Regions from separate parts of the Homo sapiens genome. Here all the other regions are reported to be linked to region 2. The links are microRNA targets in miRTarBase. Many come from high-throughput screens and were not tested one by one. Region 2 holds a microRNA gene; each other region holds the end of a gene's coding sequence.
Evidence for each region. The annotated mature microRNA hsa-miR-4510 reads UGAGGGAGUAGGAUGUAUGGUU and lies in region 2 at 2,474-2,495, opposite strand. An mRNA with a match to its seed (bases 2 to 7 or 8) in the 3' UTR can be bound and repressed. Matches are read on the target gene's strand: a 7mer-m8 pairs with bases 2 to 8, a 7mer-A1 pairs with bases 2 to 7 and ends in A, and an 8mer does both.

Region 1 (7,198 bases), not on the chromosome of region 2:
TGAGAAAGAGGCTTTAACTTCATAGCACGAGAGCTGGGACATCACCATATGGCAGACCCGGCTACAGAGGAAACACCCAAAAATGACAGACTGGCTGCATCCACACTGACTTGGACTCAAAGCCATGACCATAGGTTTTTATGGCCTCCTTGTGAGGAGGTGGGTATGAGTATTGATGATTGGCAGATGGGGAAGAAACAGAAGTTCCAAGAGGCCATGACGGTGGCCAAGGCTCATCTAGCTTGTTATGTATCAGAACTGGAACCAGAACTAGTGTCTTTTTTTCTGCCCAACAGGTTTCCAGTTCTACTGCAAATCACCACTGTGCCCAGGCTGAGCTCAGTCAGAGAGAAGGGGAATGAAGCCAAGAGCCCACAGGATGATTATTTGCCATTCATGTGGCATGCTCCCAGATAGGCACTCTTGGATTATACTCAACCTCCTCACCAACCTCATAAAGTATTCCAGACAGAGCCTGGCCTGTCTACCAGAGGTCTTCAGCAGTAAAGTCGACAAACTTTCAGGGAGTGTTGACTTTTGAGTCTAGAAAGAAAATATTGCAAACAAATCCGATGTATAAAAATGGGCTGAGGGCTGCTTTTTCCTGGTAGGACTCAATTTTGAGTTTTGTGTGGATTTAAAGGGATCCTGCAGGCAAAGTTCTTAAGCTTGAGGTTTGCAGAGGAGCAGTAATAGTAGCTTCAGGCTCAAGAGAACGAACAAAAATGGTTGATGCCTGGTAAGGGGGTCATAGTCGACACCAGAAGCTCTTGCAGGGTGTGTGATGGGCCTTTTGGCCCAGGTCAGTCTGGGTGACACATGAGCTGTGATCTGTGAACAAACTCACCAACACTCCAAAATGAATGTATTAGGACTAAGGCTCCCGAGGAAGGAAGAGTCTGTGCAGAACAGACTCAGCTGAGCCCCACAGAACGAGAACAGGCTGTTCCCTGCTCCCTGTATCATCAGATGTAGAAAGCCAGAGCCTCAGGGAGCAGCCTATGCAAATGTGTCTCTTCATAGCGGGCCAGATAACACTGTCTCTCCTCATCAGAGATTTCATACCTCTATATTGTAACCCACAAGAGGAAACATTTTTCTGTTGCATTCCAGAACACATATACACACAACTCCCTAAGCTTCATAAAACAATACTTATCCTGCAATATGTAATGCATTAAACATTTTTCTTGAAAAACATGCTGGTTGCAAACCATGAATGGCTGTGACCAATGGTTTGAAAAGCACAGCTCCAACACAGCTAACATTTATAAAGCCATACCAGGGCCAGACGCTATACATTCCTATTCATCACCCTCATTTAATCCTTCCATTAACTTTGTGATTTAGATTATCATTCCCGTTTTCAGATGAAAAAACTGAGGCTTAAAGAAGTTACTGCTCAAGGTCATATTTTGGTAGTAGGTGCGGTAATAAGTAGCCAAGCAGACATTTCAACCAAAGACTGAAGCCAGGACCCAAATACTTGGTCACCAGACTATATGGCCTCAGCTGCAGAAATTCAGGGCATCCTTATGTCCGTGTTAGAGCATGTGCGGCCCCTAGAAGGCTTTTAGCGAACGTCCCTCTGCAGCGCTTGTCCTCACTCCTTGGATCAGCTTCATCGGCTCCTCCTGTGGGCCCAACAGAGCGGGATCCCTGGGGGCCACTCTGCTTTGCTACGGCAATCACACTGCTCAAGTCAGCAAGATGTTTACTTGAGGGAGAGGGTGAGAAAAAGAAGGTTCAGGTTGGGAGTACGCTGGTCAGTGGCTTGTTTCTGCTTCACTGTGAATTCTTTCTCTTCTATGAGGTGATCCTAAGCCAGATACATATTTAAAGAATACAAGAAAAAGCCACATGGGTGTTGAAACCCACACGTAGAAAGCAAAGGTCAAGACGTGTTCAGGTCATGTATCCAGGCTGCTACAATGCCCCTGGCTCTAGACTACTCACCGGCCGCCGCTCCCATCTGGAGGTCCCTTGGTTCTACTCTTTTCTCTTTCCCTTCCGGGCTGCTTCTTCACCCAAAGGGCCCTTGGTCTAGAGATGGGTTCCACTGATGAGATGCACAAGGAGTGGTGGGCAGGCTAATAATTTGGATCTGCTTCATACAGACTTTCTTTGATGTCTTGGCAGTTGTTTGTTGGGGAGGCCGCAGCTTATGAGGGAAGGCAGTCTCAGTGGCTTCTCCGCGGAGGGAACACGTGCCTGTCTCACAATCAGCACACCCCAACTGCACTATGCTGAGCCCAGCAGCACACAAGACCCATATCACCAGCAGGCATCAGGGACCACCTGAGGGGGGACTCCTGCTAGCCCCAACTGGATTCTCAAACTTGATAGTCAGAATCACCTGGAGGGCTGTTAAGACACGGGCTGCTGGGCCCCGCTCGGTTTCTGGTTCGGTAGCCTGGGGTGGGGACCGAGAATGTGCATTTCTAACAAGTTCTCAGGTGATGCTGATGTTGACGTTGCTGGTCTGGCAACCTCAAGAACACCTTTGAGGAGGATTCTAGCAAAATCTTTCTCTTTTCACATTTCTTTGATATCTAAGGGCACCTTCTAGGTGGGGCGCCTTCCCCTCTACTGGCTGGCTCACCCTTTAAGCTGATGCACTGCAAGTCTTGAAAAGAGAGAAATTTAAAACCCATTAGCCTGGCTGAGAAAGCCCATCCCAGCCCACCCGGAGAGGAGTTTCTGTGTAATGCCAACCTCACATACATGTTTAAAATGTTTGTTTTTTTTTTTTGAGACGGAGTCTCACTCTGTCGCCCAGGCTGGAGTGCAGTGGTGCGATCTTGGCTCACTGCAAGCTCCACTTCCCGGGTTCACGCCATTCTCCTGCCTCAGCCTCCCAAGTAGCTGGGACTACAGACGCCTGCCACCACGCCCAGCTAATTTTTTTATATTTTTAGTAGAGACAGGGTTTCACCGTGTTAGCCAGGATGATCTCGATCTCTTGACCTCGTGATCTGCCCGCCTCGGCCTCCCAAAGTGCTGGGATTACAGGCGTGAGGGATGTCCACAGTGAGAAGTGTCCGCGCCCGGCTTAAAATGTTTGTTAATTTACCTCACCTAAACGGTTTCTGCATTAGGGGACGGTGGATTCTAACTATTTAAGTGGCCTAGCCAGATGAGCAAAAGCTAATACTTGGGGCTTTTTCAAGAAGTACAGGGCTGGGCCCAGTGGCTCACGCCTGTAATCCCAGGACTTTGGGAGGCTAAGGCAGGAAAATTGCTGGAGGCCGGGCATTTGAGACTAGCTAGGGCAACACAGTGAGACCCTGACTCTATTAAAAAACAAAAAAATTAGCCAGGCATGGTAGTACGTGCCTGTAGCCCTGGATATTCAGGAGGCCAAGGCACAAGAATCACTTGAGCCCAGGAGTTCAAGGCTGCAGTGAGCTCTAATTGTGCCACTGCATTCCAGCCTGGGTGACAGAGCAAGACCTTGTCTCAAACAAAAAAGAGGAAGTACAGTATGAAGAAGACAAAATGGTGGGACTAAAAGGAGATTTAGCACATGCACTTCTACCCAAATGTGTTTTGTGTACATGATATTACCAAGCCCATGCAAATATGCATAGATTATAGATTTGCTTGGATCTAAGCCTTTTGCATATTCAGTCTAGTTGCTATGAACACAAACCTGACAGAGTTGACAGAAGGAAAGCAAGCTGGGGATCACAATCCAACAAGCCACATCTTTATTTTTCACTTCCACTCCCCAGAGCCCAGGCTCTGAAAGACTGTGGCTACGACTGGTTCAATTTCCCATGAGTGCACCAAACAGTACTATCAGAACTCCTGTGACCAAGCCAAAAGTTGGGGCTGACTTTGTGTAGAAAGATGTCCTCTTTCATTACATCCGGAAATACTGAGGAGAGCTCAGGGATGCTTTCCCTTCCTGTCCTGTGTGGAAGCCAGGCTGGGAACCAATCACTACCCTGCAAATGATGGCTACATTCCTCAGTCATTGTGCTCTTGGCAAAATATCAGTCTGAACAAAAATGAAATAGGAAAAATGCCAGGAACCTTGGGGTATTCCTATCTTCTGAGAGCAACTGGTTTGAGAGCTCAGAAACATTGACTCTTTCTAGCCAAGGCCTATACAAAACCAGAGGCAGAATCCTATAGGATATCTGAAGGAACCCCACTCTATTGGAAAGATAAGCATAGTATGCACAGCTTTAAAGGAGGAGTTTCTATTTTTAGGACTAAAAAAAAGTCAGTGCATCTTCAGCACTATCTACTGCATTCCTGAGAAATGCCAGGGGAAAAGAGCTAACCTGGCTCACTTTAAAAAATGCCCTGGAAGATGGAGTATTACCAATCTCTTCCCCCTAGGGGAGGGCCAGAGCTGTAGCCCTGCTCTAGTTATTTAATACAATAACACTTCTTTCATACACCTAACTGAGCTGTATGTTATGAAAAAATTTTAAAAAAGCATATGGAAAACAAATGCTATCAACTTGATCTAAAACAGCATTCTTTTCTTTTTAATCTTAGCATCTCAGCCTCGCCCGTATCGCATGAATAGCACCGTAGACACGAGGTAAAGTTAACTGACTCAGGAAAGCTCTTAGGAGAGCCCATCAGCACAAAGGAATTGATTCAGGCTGCAGAAAGCAAAGGAAAGAGGCCTGGTGGGGCAAGCTGGTTCAAGAGAGGGACCATAAATGCATTTTAAAACAAAAAAAATAAAGTATCCTCATTCAAGAGACAGAGCAATGAAACAAACACCCAACCAGAGAAAACTCAAGTAGATTGTGGATAGTCGGCCTCCCACTAAGGGTAACACCTCAAGAGAGAGCTAAATCAGAACAGGTTTTGGAAAAATTTTATTGCATTTTGTTTCCATGTGGAAGCACTGACAGAATTGAAAAGTGGCAGCATGTTCCACTTACTTTTCTGAAAAATCACATGGCTAGATTAACTTTCGCCCTACCCAGGACAGGATTGAATAAACCTTAACTCCTACCCCCACCCCAAGCAAAAGCTAAAAAAGGGGGTTTCTGGCAATTGCTTAAAAAACAAATCAATGTGTGAGAATTCCCCGATGGTCAATAATCATATTTGTTATTTTTGCACTTGGAGGGCACTCCCTACCTCCTTCACCTCTATCCACCATCACCACCTCCTTCAAACAAGACTGACACAGGAAGTGCCTCTCAAATGGAAAATCTATTCTGTCCCAGTGCCACAGGCTTAGGTGTGTCTGTGGATTCTGGCCAATGGGATGGCCATATGTCAACTTTGAAAGGGTGGGGACTGTGAGGTAACCCCAGCATCATGGTCATCTCCATGCCAGGACAACAGTCTCCCAGGTTAAAATATAGATAAGACACAGGTACGTGCACATTTATGGGGGTTAACTATCAGAAAGTGAATCCACTTTGAGGTTTATAAAATGAGAAGGGGATGATGGTGGGGCTGTATGTGTTGGGCACTGGTGCCTATTGCAGTCAGAATTCACACTGCTTAATTGACATCTTGCTGGGGAAGAGAGGGAGATGGGGTGGTGAGAGAGGAAGCAGATGAAACAAAGGAAAACGTAGCTTGCCTGAAATTGTGTAATTTTTTTTCCTCTTGATTGTATAAGGCATTTTGAACTGGAAAAACGTCTTTCCTACACACTCTTCCAAATAATCACAGGGAATATAATTGCTGATTCAGAATACAAATAAGACCTCTTTCATCTTTCTCCCCACTCCCCCGCAAAATCATTCTACACACCCCAAGCCCATAAAGTACAAGGCAGGCAATTGCTTTGCGAGTTAGCAGGCAAACCGTGTCCACTTGGGGGATGAGGTCGCTGTGCCAAGGTCCCTTCTGATCCTGCCCTTCTCAGGCCTCAAGGGGTAAGCATCCATCTTCGGTGAGGTTTTATGTCCCATCGGGGAGCCCGCCACTGCCTCCTGGGCAGTGGGAGGTCAGGGCCCTCCTGGCTTTCCCATGCATCCCCCACCAGGTGTCCAGACTATTCCATCCACGCACAGCGTCATGTCTCACTCAGTTAGTAGAATGGGCACAGCGCGAGACAGCGCCCTCTACATTAGTCATGCCAGACAGACAGCAGAGAGAAACCAGAGGCCAGAGAAGTGATTTTAAAAGGAAAAGAGAGCAGCTTCGGTCACCAAAAGAAATCGAAAGGATGGTTTTTAAAAAATAAAATGTGGGGACTTTTTTTTTTCTCTGCAATGCTCAGCCATTTTACTTGAGACATAAAAAAAGTTTTAAGAGTAGTTGTTTTGCTTTTTCGATTTAAACATTCATGAGAACGGATGGGACGGTAGTGCTGTGGTGTGGACTTGTGTCTGAGTGGCCATGCCGGTCGGGGTCCTTCAGACCACATACTGGTACGGGTCTGCCTTCCCTTGGTCTGGCGTGGCAAAGGGGCTGGCCCAGCCTAGAGAGAAGGGGTGGCCAAAAACGGCTTTCATGTTCATCCATTTTGTTTTTTTAGCCCATCTTCTCTCTTCCTTTTTCAATTGTTCTATTCCCTGAAAACAAGAACAATCATACTTTCAGTCAAGCACTGCATTGCTGTGGTTTCTGGGGAGGGATGTCCGCAGCGACAGGTGAATGGAGTAAATGTTTCCTTTTTAAAGCAACAAAGCTATCTACCTAATATATCTTTCTCATAAAAAGTGTTACTAAAAAAATTTCTCCTTTTTTTGGTGGGCACTCATTCACAAGTCCCTCCAAGAAGGGAGGGAAAAAGAAGCACTATCAGCAGCGCAGAAACTGCTGCTTGTAAGTATGCCAGGCCGGGGTGTGTCGCTAAGATAAGGAGCGCGTCTCTCCAGCCCTGGCCCCTTGTTGAGCTCTGCAGAGGCACTCTTCAGAAACTCTGTGCTGGGCTGTGGATGGAGTACTATGAAGGCTTTGGCGTGAGAGGCCTCAGAGCTGTTGGGGAGCTCGCAATCATCATAACCAATGATGGCCATTAATTTGGGATAGGTTCCTAGGAAGTTTGAAGCTACCATGACCACCTTGCAGACAAAAAAAAAGTAACAAATCAAATGACTGCTCTGGCGTTGTGTGTCTCACCAGCCTGGGGGATCAAGCAGCACCCCGCTTAGTGGGCCTGGTGAGACACAAACTGAGAAGGTTGAATAGGAGTGACAGACCACGAATGAGGGGAGAAGTCACCAGAGGAGGAAGGAGGAGGGATTAGTACAGGTTAGAGGGT
Region 2 (7,198 bases):
TCCCTCCAGGCTGAAATAGTTACCAGGTTGAGTATTAAATTTAGCTCTGTGCTTTCTGGAAAGGTCAACATTATATCTAACTTGCTCTTGGGCTTTATGACCTCTGTTGAGCCTTGTTACCTAAGGGAGATACCCATATGGAAAAACACAGCATTCTTTTTCTATGTTAAGAAGTGTTGAAGTTTCCTAGAATTTCTGTTGAAAATTCCACATACCCAGACATCAGTTTCAAACCTGACAGGTTTTGCTAATAGGAAGAGTGGGAGAGCTGGATCTGTCAAGGTAAGCAGTACGTATGAGAGTCAGTGAGGCTTGAAGTAGAGGCTTGCTTGGCAGAGGTGAGAGTGCATCTGAGGCTCGATGTCATGAATCTGTGGGCAGTCACAACTGCTAACTCCTGTCTAGTGCTGTGTTCCAGTTGTCTACTGCTGTCTAACAAACCACCTTAAAACTTCAGGCAATTAAGACAAAACTTATTTAATATTTCTTAAGGCCAGGGGGTTGATTGTGCCCAACTGGTTGGTTTTCACCTGAGGTCTCTCAAGCACTTACAGGCAGCTGTCATCTAGGCCTGCAGTCACCCAAAAGCTCAGCTGGGCTAGAAGTTCAATATGGTACGCTTACATGTCTGGTAGTTGATACTAGCTGTCAGTTTTTGAAAGCTTAGCTAGGCTGGAGCAGCTAATCACGGCTTTGTTGTATGGTTCCTGCTTCTCACTGCAGAGACTGGGTTCTTGGAAGAAATGTCCTATGAGCAAATATTCCAAAATGTAGGGATCAGGAGTTGCTGGGCTACTTAAGGGCCATATGCAGAACCTCAGTTGTATATTATTGAATAGAGCAATCACATGGCCTACTCAGATTCAAAGTGGTTGGAAAAATAAACTTCTAATGGTGTAAGGACAAAATCACAATGAAGAAGAGTGTGTAAAGTAGCAAATTATATTGTGACCATCTTTGGAAAATATGATCTATCACATCCTCCAAGAGCTCTCTGTACTCTGGAATCAAAGCAGATATAAAGAATACAAATAAGTATTTTGGGAATATTATTTAAGGCATGGTATAAAGTTATGTAAGCACTGAACTGTAAGATGTAGTGACTTTGACATGTAAAGAAATTGATTATTTAATTGTGAGGACAGGAAAGAGCTCTAGACCAAAATTCTCCTTCTGGCTGTATATTTTATTAGCTATGTAGCCTTGGGATAGTAACTGGGCCTTCTAACTGTGTCTATATAACAAGAGGTCTGGATTGGATAATCTGTAAGAGACATTATCATTCTTAATAACTAGGAAACCATGGGCTTGATGCCTATTTGCTTACTGCGGGTCAGGGAGAATAATATGGTGAATGAATTGCTTATAAATCAAAATAACACATTTTGAACAGGGTTTGCTTTTCTGGGAATCAATAATTGACATTAAATACTGTAGAGAAAGTTATTGATGACATTGATTGTTAGATTAGTCCTTTGGCTCTAGAGTCAAAGGAAGGCATTTCCTAATGATCTTCTATAATATACAAACTTTAAGTTTCTTTTCTATGTATTTCACTCTAATGTGAACTCAAATAATCTCTGACCTGCTAACAGATGTGGAAGCTGACAAATTTATTTGTAAGCAGAATAATTACCTCTTAATATTGATTTGTAAATCCATGTTGCCATTCATTGAATTTCTCCAAGTAGAAACAAGATATATCCAGGTCTACGACTGTGGATGGCTACATGTGGATCCCTACTTAATATTGAATGAGACAATGCATATCTGTCACAAGGTAATATATGATAGCTGTATCTAATTGCATATAAAAGAGGACCAAGCCAATTGACATCTCTCTGCTCTCAAGAAAACAATGTGAGCAGGACATAGATGTGTCTTGTGTTCCACACAGGGGGATTTTGGAGTTGTGGTAAATGAGATGGATTCTCTCCAGCGAACAAACCAAGAAAGGGTTGGAAAACAATATAAAATGGTCAGACATCTTCTGGATAGAGATTGTAGCGGAGTTTAGCATAGGATATGAGCCTTGCTAGGTTTTTCTATAATGACAAGTTTAAACAGGACCAATTTGCATTTTTATAAACAGCAATCACTTCCTAGAATTCTAGGGTTTCCCAAATCAAACTCCTGAATGTCAGTCTCTCCCACTTCAGTCATGGGTAACTGCCCTCTCTCTGAGCATTACCCCTCATTTATCTTAAGGAAAATGATAGACCAGTTTGTAGCATATCCTAAATTCTCTACTTAAATTGTGCTGCAATAGACACACAATGAGACACCATCAACTAAGCAACCACTGAATGACTATTACATACAAGACACTGTATTGGAGGCTATCAAAGGGTATATTCATTCATTCATTCTTCTTCTTTTTTTTTTTTTTTGCTTATTCCATGAACATTTCTGAGTGCCTACTTAATGACAGGCTCTGTCTGTTGTGAGAAAAGATTGTAGTTGTCTATCTAACAACCATACATCCTACTCCCTCACATACACACTATTCCACAGAGGCAACCTGGTATTCATCTTAAAGGCAACAACTCTGGGGCCAGATCACCTGAGTTACAACCCTGCTGTCACTACTGAATAACAGTGTGACCTTAATTAATTAATTAATTAATTAATTAATTAATTTATTTATTTAATACAAGGTTATCTTGCTGTCTCACCAAGGGTGAAGTGCTTTGGCATGTCCATAGCTCACTGCACCCTCAAACTCTTGGGTTCGAAGGATCCTCCAGGTTCAGCCTCTTGAGTAGCTAGAACTACAGGTCCACACAATCACACCTGGTTAATTTTTAATTTTTTTTGTAGATATGGGGTTTCACTATGTTGCCCAGGATGGACTCAAACTCCTGGCCTCAACCCATCTTCCCACCACTGCCTCCCAAAGTACTGGGATTATAGGCATGAGCCGCTGTGCCTGGCCCTTAAGTTACTTAATATCTTGATAAGTTATAGATAATAACCACCTCATATAATTTTTGTATTAAATGATTTAATACACATTTCTATATCTCTTTATGTATGTTTAATAACTCTTAGAATAGTGCCTCCCTTGTTGTAAGTGCTGTGTAAGAGTTGATTTTGTTCAAGTCTTGGTAGGCCATATCCTTCAAAGGAGACTAAGTCCCTTCTCAGCTGAAGGTGCATATCAACTCTGGTTGAAATGACTCATGTAAATTCCATTCTCTTGTCCATGATGTAATGTCATTCTGTCCAGTAAAATGTGAGGGGAAGTCTGGGGTGGATTTCTAGTACAGTTTTTCTGACTTTTATGAAAGAACATAAGGAAGAGATGGTCTATCTTCTCACCTCTGGAAGTTATTGTTGAGGATATAAGGTTGGAGTAACTTGGGGATGTGAGGGGCCACGTAAGGACAAACACGAACATTCCAAAGATGGCAGAACAAAATGTGGAAATGAAATGGATCCCTGAGCCATTCATTGAGCCCTTGAAGTCAGTGATCTTGGAACATACAACAGGACTTGTCAGACAATAAAGATAACAAAGCCCTCATTGTATGAGTCATTTTGCTTGTTTTCTGTTACTTGCTGGTGAGGTCATCAGGTGAACTGACACATCGTTCTTCCCTGATCATGAGGATTCATGGTATCATTAAAATTTCTTTTTTATTTAAACAAATATGAGAAACGAAACACGCTCAGACTTTCTAGTAAGGAAAAACAAAAGCCCACCTCAGAGGACGAATAAGCAAGCCATTTACCCTAATTCAGGTGTGTGGTATTTATTTTAATATGTATAAAAATTACAATAGATACAAGTGTAAAATGGTGTGAGATTGATTTCATCAGTCTTGTCACATAAGAAGAATAAACCTCTGGGTCACTCTCCGCTGCACGATGGCATAATAAATAAGGAAAACATGGTCATGACTCCTTCTCTATGAGAGATGCGATAGTTGATTAAGTGCAATCTATTAGTAGCTGCCAGTAACAAGAAAGGTTAATTTAAACCAGATAGTCTCAGGTTTCAACCTCTTCTATGGCTGCAAATCTGGATAGGTGTCCTTTGCTTACTGGTTCAAGCTACTGACAGGCAGACCTGAAATGGTTTTGGCTTCTGTCTGTGGCCCCAGAGCCAGGCAATCCAATAACAGTCTTTTCCCTTTAACTCTCAAACATAGGGATGATAGTGGCTTTTTGCTACTGTAATGTCTGGGTTGCCTTATTATCATTTGTTTGGCTTCTCAGCACCTCCCTCTATTAAAATTCCTCCTATCTGGAGTGACTATTGTTGTCCTGATTGATACGCTATCCTTGGTTTTATTCTGAACTATGGAAATCATAGACATTAGTTGTAACATCCAAGACTCAACCTTGACTTCTCCCAGTGATCCTACCTTTCCAATCATTGGTGATCATACCATCTTCAGTTGTATTTCAGAGGGGACTTACATGCCCCTGATTGCATGTATTCCCCAGACAAGGTCAACCTGGTTGAAACACAGCCTCAGTCTAGTATATCAATGTGTAATTAGTTCATTGTTTCATTTGACCTATGAATAACTATGACCAAGAGGGTATCAGAATTTATACAAAGCCATGTTATTATGGAATTCTAATATAGTTTGCTTTGCTATATATGATGGTGTTTTCATGAGGAGACTTTCATATATAAATAATAGAGAAAACTTGTAACATGGACTGTCCCACATAAGCAAAGCCACAACAAAAAACACATGAAAAGAACTATTGAAGGGCGAATGGTGGGTAATAAAGTAATGGAAATTATGCAATAAGACACTAGAGAGCCAGATAAATCTAAATCTCTAACAAGTCATGCAGGGTCTTAAGGTTGCAGCCCATGGCAGTGGAGAATTTTTGGGTGGACCTCACTCTGCTGTGCCTGCAGAGGGGTTGCCCTGGCTTTCTATCTTCCTTACTGAGAAGAATTTTCAGCAGTTCAATAGAAAACATTTACTGGGGAAAGGTGATATTTTACATAATGATTTTCCTGCCTTTGATTCCGCACATGTTGTTTTGTCTTTGAAATGTGCTAAAAGATGTATGTAAGCTGTCTGGCACTTTGTGCTTTTACAACCTGTGTTGTTTCAAATCCACAGCAAGGCAATTTTAAGTATTTGGGGTAGCACTTTCTTATGTCTGTTCTTTCTTTCTCCAGGCAGATGAGCTCATCAGACACTATTAGCCCTAGCTATAGAAGTTTAGAGGTAAACCACTGTCTGAACTGAACTAGTAAAACTGCTCTAAGCTGCAGTTTCCCTGAAAGTAAAGTATTAACTATCTATCATGTACTATGATGGATGAAGCCCATTAGATAAAGAAAAAGTCTGTTTTATTGGTTGAAAAATAATTAATCTTTACGAAGGTGATAAGCCTCATTTTACTCTTCATATTTGGAAGGATCTCGTGTCTTGAGCTTTGGCATGAGCATGCTGAGATGGCTGAGTGCAAGAACCACAGATGCTTAAGAGGATATGATGGAAACTTCTAGGTTTGTTACTAAACCAATTCTCTAACTTTTAAAGTGACACAATAAGAATAACGGGGTTAAGATGTGTTCTGAATTTTCTGTAGGAACATGTACACAAAATCAGATTCTGCTCTACAATGTAACAATTTTAGCAACTTCTTGAAATACCTCTATTTGTACCATTATGGTTTGGTACCCAAGTTAAAAGTCTCTGCATATCAGAAGGATGTCACTTATGGGAAAGAAGAAAGAAAAGTTTACTTTCTAGAGTATATTATTTTGGAAACACAATGTATTGTTTACGTGTAATAAAAATATAATGGTAACATTCAAACATGTTCATATCACCTCGTTGTATTTTTAAACTATAATTTTTGGCAATCATCAAGGAAGAAGAGACAATAGGGTGCATTTTAATTACAAAACAAACAAAACAATTCTCCCAGGCATTTCTGATGCAAAAGAGTTTGAGGATGTATGTCTTGGCAGGTCCAAAAATCAAAATGCAATTATTCTTTATATTTGGTTTTGTATTTTACCAGTGATAATGTAACAATTTTACCCACATATAGAACATAAGTAAATTATGCTACAGGTCTTGCAAAGCAGTACATTATTTTGCATCCACAGAGCTAGGTTCACACAACTTCTGCTTACTAGTTGTGTGACTTCTAATAAATATTTAATCTCTATGACTACCTTTTCATCTGAACAATGGAGATAATACCTATCTCGTAAGATTGTTTGAGTAGTCAAATGAGATAATGTAAGGAAAATGATAACTCACAGTTAATGCTTACTTACAATTCTCATCTAGATGTAATTTCCCTTTTTTTATCTTAATACAGAAATCTGAACACTATGGTTTAAACAATGTTCTCTGAAACATATAATTGCAAAAAGTAAAATCAAGGGTACCACCAGCCTAGAAATTAAGGATTTGGTAATTATTCCTTCTCCTGCCCTAATCATTCAGTTATTGCATTACACAAAACTTCCCAAATGTCCTACATGTCCATGATTACAACTTCCTTAGGACTTTTATTAACAAAGGTAGTGCACAGAACAATGCTAATTTTAATGTTCAACCAAGGCAGTAACCAAAAAACAGAATTCCTATTCCTTTGTTTCCTGGACATTATGTCCTGTAGTAACATAAAATGTCATCATATAGGTAATTGCCTATCCAGCTCTGCATAAGACTGGCTTTGAACCTGTGTAAGTGTATACAACTAAATTTGTCTAATCCTTCCTGATCTTGCTCTGATAGGCTGAAACCAGGTTGACCGTGCATGTGTGAATGGCTATACCGTATTGTGCCTTAGGGCACTGTGGTGGAGGTTGCTTGTACATAAAGAAAGGAATTACCTGAAATAGTGCAAATGGATTGTGAAAAATATTGGAATCACAAGATTTCAAACCCTTACTCATTTATTTACACAGCCAAAATCATAGATATTTGTTATTTCTAAAATAAGTAATGAGCAGACAGATGAAGAGAGGGGACTTCTAGAATATTTCTATACTTTTCTGAGCTTACTAATACAAATATCCTGGCCTTCTCATCTATAAATACCATCTTGCAGAAGTTCCATCTCTCTCCTGAGCTATAACTAAAAATTATAAAAGTTGTCATTGAGGCTTCCAACTTTGCCTGTCACCCTTTGGTTTCGTTATTCTTTTTGCTGTCTTAAGTTTCACGGGTAAAATAGAAAGATGCATCTCTAGAGCTTT
Region 3 (7,198 bases), not on the chromosome of region 2:
GCATGAAGTTGTTTTTTCACCACGTTTTTTTTTCTTTTTTTCCGAGTCGGAGTTTCGCTCTTGTTGCCCAGGATGGAGCGCAATGGCATGATCTCGGCTTACTGCAACCTCTGTCTCCTGAGTTCAAGCGATTTTCCTGCCTCAGCCTCCAGAGTACCTGGGATTACAGGCACCCGCCACCACGCATAGCTAATTTTTTTTTTTTTTTTTTTTTGAGACGGAGTCTCGCTCTGTCGCCCAGGCTGGAGTGCAGTGGCGCGATCTTGGCTCACTGCAAGCTCCACCTCCCGAGTTCACGCCATTCCCCTGCCTCAGCCTCCCGAGTAGCTGGGACTACAGGTGCCCACCACTACGCCCAGCTAATTTTTTGTATTTTTAGTAGAGACAGGGTTTCACCGTGTTAGCCAGGATGGTCTCCATCTCCTGACCTCGTGATCCACCCGCCTTGGCCTCCCAAAGTGCTGGGATTACAGGCGTGAGCCACCGCGCCCAGCCTAATTCTTTGTATTTTTAGTAGAGACGGGGTTTCATCATGTTGGCCAGGCTGGTCTCAAACTCCTGACCTCAAGTGATCCACCTGCCTTGGCCTCCCAAAGTGCTGGGATTATAGGCATGAGCCACCACACCCAGCATTTTTCACCATCCTATGCAAGTTCAAGTATGTGCAGAAGCATGTACATGTGAGGGGAACCAAACAGGTGGACTGAGCCAGTCACCACATTGTTGTCTCTCAGCCCCAAACCCACCCTCTGAACTCTGCTCCGAGCCACATTTTCCCCCTCCTAGCTCAACCTGGTAGGACAGGCTGAGGGAGACTGCAAGACGAGAGAAAAAAAGGAGGGACGATGTATTTCCTGTTGTGAGCCAAACCACAGAACACTGCTGTGTGCTGGCATAGCTGATTCCAGGAGTGGTGCTGGTTTCTTGGTGGTTTCTCTACCCTCTGAGAGGCAGCAGCTGCCACTGGCCAGCACGTCCTTCTCCATTGGTCCCCTCCTCTTGAATCTCCATTTTATTTTGAGACACAATCTCTGTCACCCAGGTTGGAGTGCAGTGGTGTGATCTCAGCCCACTGCAACCTCCACCTCCCGGGTTCAAGCAATTCTCGTGCCTCAGCCACCCAAGTAGCTGGGATTACAAGCATGTGCCACCATGCCCGGCTAATTTTTGTATTTTTAGTAGAAACAGGGTTTCACCATGTTGGCCAGGCTGGTCTCAAACATCTGACTTCAAGTGATCTGCCTGCCTCGGCCTCCCAAAGTGCTGGGATTACAGGTGTGAGCCACCACACTTGGCCTTATTTTATTTTTAGATTTAATTTTACATAGAGACAGAGTCTCACCACGATGCCCAGGCTGATCTCACACTCCTGGGCTCAAGCAATCCTCCCAGCTTGGGCCTCCCAAAGTGCAGGTGAATCTTTTTTTTTTTTTTTTTTTTTTGAGACTGAGTCTCGCTCTGTCACCAGGTTGGAGTGCAGTGGCGTGATCTCTGCTCATTGCAACCTCTGCCTCCCGGGTTCAAGCCATTCTCCTGCCTCAGCCTCCCGAGTAGAGTAGCTGGGATTACAGGCACCTGCCACCATGCCCAGCTAATTTTTATATTTTTAGTAGAGACGGGGTTTCACCATGTTGGCCAGGATAGTCTAGATCTCCTGACCTCGTGATCCGCTCGCCTCGGCGTCCCAAAGTGCTGGGATTACAGGCGTGAGCCACTGCGCCCAGCCCTTTTATTTTTTTGAGGCGGAGTTTTGCTCTTGTTGCCCAGGCTGGAGTGCAATGGCGTGCTCTCGGCTCACCACAACCTCCACCTCTCAGGTTCAAGTGATTCTCCTGCCTCAGCCTCCCGAGTAGCTGGTCCGGCTAATTTTGTATTTTTTAGTAGAGATGGGGTTTCTCCACGTTAGTCAGGCTGGTTTCGAACTCCTGACCTCAGGTGATCCGCCTGCCTTGGCCTCCCAAAGAGCTGAGATTACAGGTGTGAGCCACCGCGCCCGGCCAAATCTCCACTTTAATAATCCCAATGTCTTCCCACTGTTCTCAGGTCCCAGGAGTGAGGACTGCACCCTGCAATCCCTACATTGTGATGCCTCAGTGTCCACTCCTGCCCTTTCCTTTCTCCACTACCAGTTAACAACTGCTGTGGTCTCAATTGGACCCTGACGGATGCACCCACGCATCCTGTTCACTAAGCTGTATGAGTCCATTTTGTCTCCCTACCTGAAAGTGCTGTCTGGAAGGGACTAACACCTTCTGAGTTTCCCATGCCCCGCCTGATGCTGAAGTGATCAATACTTGTTTGTTGGTTGTCACCAAACGTTCCTCACTCATCCTCTTCCTTGTACCTAGTCACTCACTCTCTTCCAGAAAGACTTGTCCCTTAAAAACCATCTCACGGCCGGGGATGGTGGCTCATGCCTGTAACCCCAGCACTTTGGGGGGCTGAGGCGGGAGGATCACCTGAGGTCGGAGTTCGAGACCAGCCTGGCCAACACAGCAAAATACTGTCTCTACTAAAAATACAAAAATTAGCCAGGCGCGCAGGCAGGCGCCTGTAATCCCAGCTACTCAGGAAGCCGAGGGAGAATTGCTTGAACATGGGAGGCAGAGGTTGCAGTGAGCCGAGATTGCACCACTACACTCTAGCCTGGGTGACAGAGCGAGACTCCATCTCGGGGAAAAAAAAAAAAAAAAAAAATCTCACACTCCTCCCCTTGTCTCTTTCCAGCTCTCTGGTGGGCAGCCCATCCGTCCCACCTTCTGTTTCTCTGCATTCTCTGGGTCTTTTCAGATTCAGTAAAATGAAAGGGAGGAGGGAGAAGGCCCAACACCCCCTTTGGTGGTTTCAGTAGCAGGAGAAAAGGACTTAGTCAGCTGTCCTGGTAGGAAAGGTAGTTAAGTCATCTCCTGAAACCCATGTGAGAACCATCGACAGGAAGTGACAGTGGGAACCAGGAGACTGCAGTAATGGAAAACACACCACAGTTCTTGAGATTCAGAAGTTTCATATCTTTATTCACACAAAAAAAGTCACAGCATTTCAGACTATTCAAACACACAAACAGGAACAGAGGGTGCCCACCAGTGACAGCCTCGTCCCTAAGTCTGGATCAAAGGCCACGCTGGAGGGTGGGGTGTCCTCTCGGGCCTCCTCTCTCAGCATCCCGTGGCTCCCTGCTCCCAGCCTCACTGACATCCCCAAGAGCAGTTACAACTGTGCAGAAACAAAGTCACTTTAGAGGAGGCTGGGCCCCACCTCATTGCCATGGAAAAAGGCCAGATTCTGAGGAAAAGACAGAATCAGTGCTACTGTGTCATCAGTTGGGGGATGCTGGGCACTCCTGGGCCTGGCTGGCATCACCTGCGTCCCAGACCTGGGGCAGAGAAAAAGGCAGGACCCTCCCCACTTGGCAGTACTGGGCAGCAGAGAGTGTGGGTCACTGGTCACGTGACAGCCCCAAACTGCCACGCAGACCTCTCTGATGTGATCAGCCAGACACTCAGAGGGCACAACGCTTTCAAGCAAGAACACCAGCCTGGTTCCTAAAGGGGGTGGGTGAACAACGCTCCCAGAAATCTTAAGAACCCAGAGTCCTGGAGCGCTGGAACAATACAGGTGTCATTGGGTTGCAGCGAGGAGGGAAACTTGGTGAACACCAGCCCTCCGAGAGGGCGGAAATACCACTCCTGTCTATTTCCCAGAGCACGTGCCTGTGCCTTGGGGCTCAAGAGCAGTCTTTTCATGGCGGCAACTATGGAATCTAAGAGGAATGAAGGAAACGGCGCCCTCAGGAGGTGCTCAACATTGGTGTCTGACCCCCAGGCCTCCTTGCTGAACCTGGTGAGAAAGCTGGGGTTGGTCTAGGAGCTCCAGCCCACGCTGATCAGGCATGCCCCAGGAAAGCAGACAGGGACAAGCGCCTCAACGAGACTGGGCACAAGGCCGCAAACCAAGCTGCTTTTCCTCTGTCAGTCTGATGTTACTCATTGGACCTGGCCAAGGAGCGCCTCTTCCAAAGTCCTCCATCCTACCCGGCTCAGAGCAGTCCTTCCCGTGATCACTACTTTCCTTGGCTACATCTAACTTTTTTTTTCTCTGAAAGATACGACTGGATGGATGCCTGTGACTCTTGAAGGGGTGGCTGCTTTTACTGAGGACGGCAGTTCATCTAACACTTTACAGCTGTAAAATGTGGCGCATAGGTGTGTAGACGTTGATGTGTCAGCAGAAACCCCTGTATACCGGGTTCTATGCTATGCTACAGATACAGAGAAACAAGGAGACTGAGGGTCCTAGGGAAAAGTTATGCCATCTGGGCATGGTCAGGTCAGAAGCTCAAAAGACATTTGGCACAGTCTGCAGTCATTTCCAGAAACTACTACCCAGACGTACCTTGGCAAGCAGGTGAGCTGTGGAGCACACAGGACATCACTTCTGAAGGTGCCCAGGAGCACCTGGCTCGAGGAGGCTTTCATAGAAGGAGAAGTCCCCAGAGCCCCTTCCCTTTCTCTGTGCCATCTGCCATACTACTGAAAGTTATTCGGGGCAGACAGGGTCCCCTGGCTCTACCGCATTCCATGACTGCTCAGCGAGACCCACATGCTCGGAGAGAAAGTGTGGACACAAACTCTGTGGATGCAGCCCGAAAGAGGGTGCTGCCGCATCCGGATCCTCGCCAGCATGGCACTCCAGAAAAGAAAGTAATGGCGGGGGTCAGGGGGGTGGTCAGAGACACAGGGGGTCCCCAGACTGCCTAGCACATACATACATACCACTGGGGACAGTACAGAGGGGAGCAGGTCCGCCAAGGTTAGAAACCAAGAGACACAAATATTGCACATTCAGTCAAGGCATTTCCAAGAGAGTCACAGAAATAACTCTCTCTGAGACACAACATAACACATTTGGCAACTTTCAAAGAAACAGCCTTCCCCACTCCAAGCCATCAAAGGGTCCATAAGTGCCTTCATCTTTGGTCCAGTTGAAAAAGCCAGGGAAGGAAGACAGGGTCAATGGGGAGTAAGAAGAGGCTGCAGGTGCAGTTCCTACAGCTCCCACTTGTCTGACTCAGTGCAGGATGCCGCCTGTCTCAAACCTCTTCTTGGAGGGAAAACAAGCTCTCCAGAGGGTCCCGGCTGCTGGAGAAAGGTGAGGCAAAGCTGCATGTGGTGGCAGCCGGGAGCCCCAAATCCAGAGCAATGATCACCAACCTCCAACCACAACAAAGGACACCCCATCCTCCCTTTCCTTGGAGGCTCTATTCATGGGAATGCGGGGTACTCTGGCAACTCTATGCTTTACCTAAAACCTCAATTCGACAAACTGCAGCTAGAACCCTTTGCATCTGCTGCACGTCTTGGAGGGTGCATAGGAGGGACGGTGTTCCGAAGCAGCTGCTAACGTCCATTGTGGCACACATAGGGTGAAACCATGGCACGGCACGGGAACAATCCTCTTGGCTCCAGCGTCCTTAAAGTACAGGCCATTTCCAAGGAGCTAGGCCTTCCGCCCTCATCCCCCAGATCCCCGAAAGGCTCCGACTGGGAACCCAGCCCAGCTGCTGTTGTAAAGATCTGTTCTAATACTGGCTAAGCAAATGAAAGCAGGTTTCTGAAAAGGTATTCTGCAGCCAGAAGTCGCACTGTCTTCGGAGTCCTGCAGGTGGGGAGGGAGTTCCTTTAGTTTTGACCAGAACACTTCTTCACAGGGGGCCAGGATCAGCTGTGCTTTGCAGTGGCTCGGTCACTGGACAGGAGTGAGGTTTCACTTCACAGAGGGGCTCTGCTGACTGCTCTCCTGAAGGTCTGGAGTTTTCGGGGTCTTAGTTTACATCCGCGATCCTCTCTCCTGAAGAATCTGAAAGTTGGAGATGGGGGAGAGGCTGAGGCTGCTGAGGGAAAGACAGAGATGTCGGGGGATGCTTTCCACTGGACCCGATGAGTGGCATGATGGTCCTGTCATCCCAGGAAGCAAGCAGGGGTGCAGCCGCAGCCTCACCCGCAGTGCTTCTGGTGCGAAACACTCTCTTGCTGGGCACAGCTGGGTCTAAAGCTTATATGCTGTTGGACCAAAGCTTTGCCAACTGAAAGGAAGTGGTTCCAGCTTACCTGGTATCCACGATTTAGAAGCTGTGTGTGTGTGTGTGTGTGTGTGTGTGTGTGTGTGTGTGTGTGTTGGGGGTGAGGGGGGTGCACAGTGGAGGGAAAAGAAACAGTTTTCCAGGAACTTAAGGGAGGTAAAGGTCACCAAGGTAAGAAAACACCCTTTTCTCCTGAGGCAGTGAAAAAAGCACAGTTTTAAAGAATAAATCAAAATACCTTCCAAGTCTGAGTTCAGAAATCCTACCCTGTAGTAATTAGTGGCAACCAGCTTTTCTTTTTCATTGATTTGGCAGAGGATGGAGAAAGTCTACCCTTTTTAGGTTCATATTTTCTAACTAAAAACACCTGTCAGTGCTCCGTAAATCCCAATTAAATTACAACAGTCAAAAATAACAAAACGAGGGGAAAATGCAACGCTGGCTCTAGAAGGCCAGGGAAGAAGTGAGGAGCAAGAGTTCAGGAAAAGCCCACGGAGGGGGTGCGAACAAGCAAGCCAGAGGCAACTGCCCAGGGAAGGGGCTCCTTACCTTCGCCTTTTCGCTCGGCTCTATGACGATGCCATTGGTAGAATTATTTAGTTCTCTGGAGACAACACAGAGGAATTCTGCCTGATCCTCATTGCCGTAGTTATAGGAAGATCCGATGCTGATGAGCTGATGAACCAAGAATACAGTGAACATTCATGTGGCAATCTTAACATACTTTCGAAAGTGCTACACAAATCACCCCTCTTCCGACTGAACTTTTAAGTTATCAAAGGTTTAACTCTTTATATGAGTTCTCTGTGACTACCAAAGCCCCCGGGGAGAAATGGGCCTGTTCTTCATCAGGGCATCATTGGTGAGGCCTCCCCAGGAGGAAGAGTATGAGCTCCACTGTCCCCTCACCCAAGCTCTGAAGTCCCCCCCCGTCAGCGGCAGGATTAACATGCCCACGCCCCGTCGAGCACAGCAAGGGAAGACAGAACGCATCTGCCAACAAAATGGACATTTGCCTCAGTCACACACACAGCTGGCTCCTCTATCAGCAGAAGCCCTAGACTGGGGACAGGAGGCTCTGGAAAGCACCGAGCCAATCACTGATCAGCTACTGGAAGT

Region 1: the mRNA of ZDHHC3 is a reported target of hsa-miR-4510. Seed matches in the 3' UTR shown: 7mer-m8 at 5,510-5,516, 7mer-A1 at 3,016-3,022, 7mer-A1 at 2,166-2,172 and 8mer at 1,720-1,727.
Region 3: the mRNA of KCTD2 is a reported target of hsa-miR-4510. Seed matches in the 3' UTR shown: 7mer-m8 at 5,667-5,673.

The regions. Positions count from the first base shown.
Region 1 is chr3:44,920,342-44,927,539 of GRCh38, forward strand. It overlaps ZDHHC3 (zDHHC palmitoyltransferase 3), which reads right to left. Exons shown (of 7, transcript NM_001135179.2): 7 at 1-6,506. The coding sequence ends at 6,348. Among named protein-coding and RNA genes, the nearest start is that of TGM4, 49 kb to the left of the region's middle.
Region 2 is chr15:35,922,160-35,929,357 of GRCh38, reverse strand. MIR4510 (microRNA 4510) reads right to left here and starts at 2,502; the gene lies at 2,435-2,502. The region is part of intron 1 of LOC105370766 (a long non-coding RNA gene); the gene reads right to left.
Region 3 is chr17:75,061,676-75,068,873 of GRCh38, reverse strand. KCTD2 (potassium channel tetramerization domain containing 2) reads right to left here. Exons shown (of 6, transcript NM_015353.3): 5 at 6,629-6,754; 6 at 2,988-5,856. The coding sequence ends at 5,827. Among named protein-coding and RNA genes, the nearest start is that of KCTD2, 18 kb to the right of the region's middle. RefSeq lists an enhancer at 973-1,042.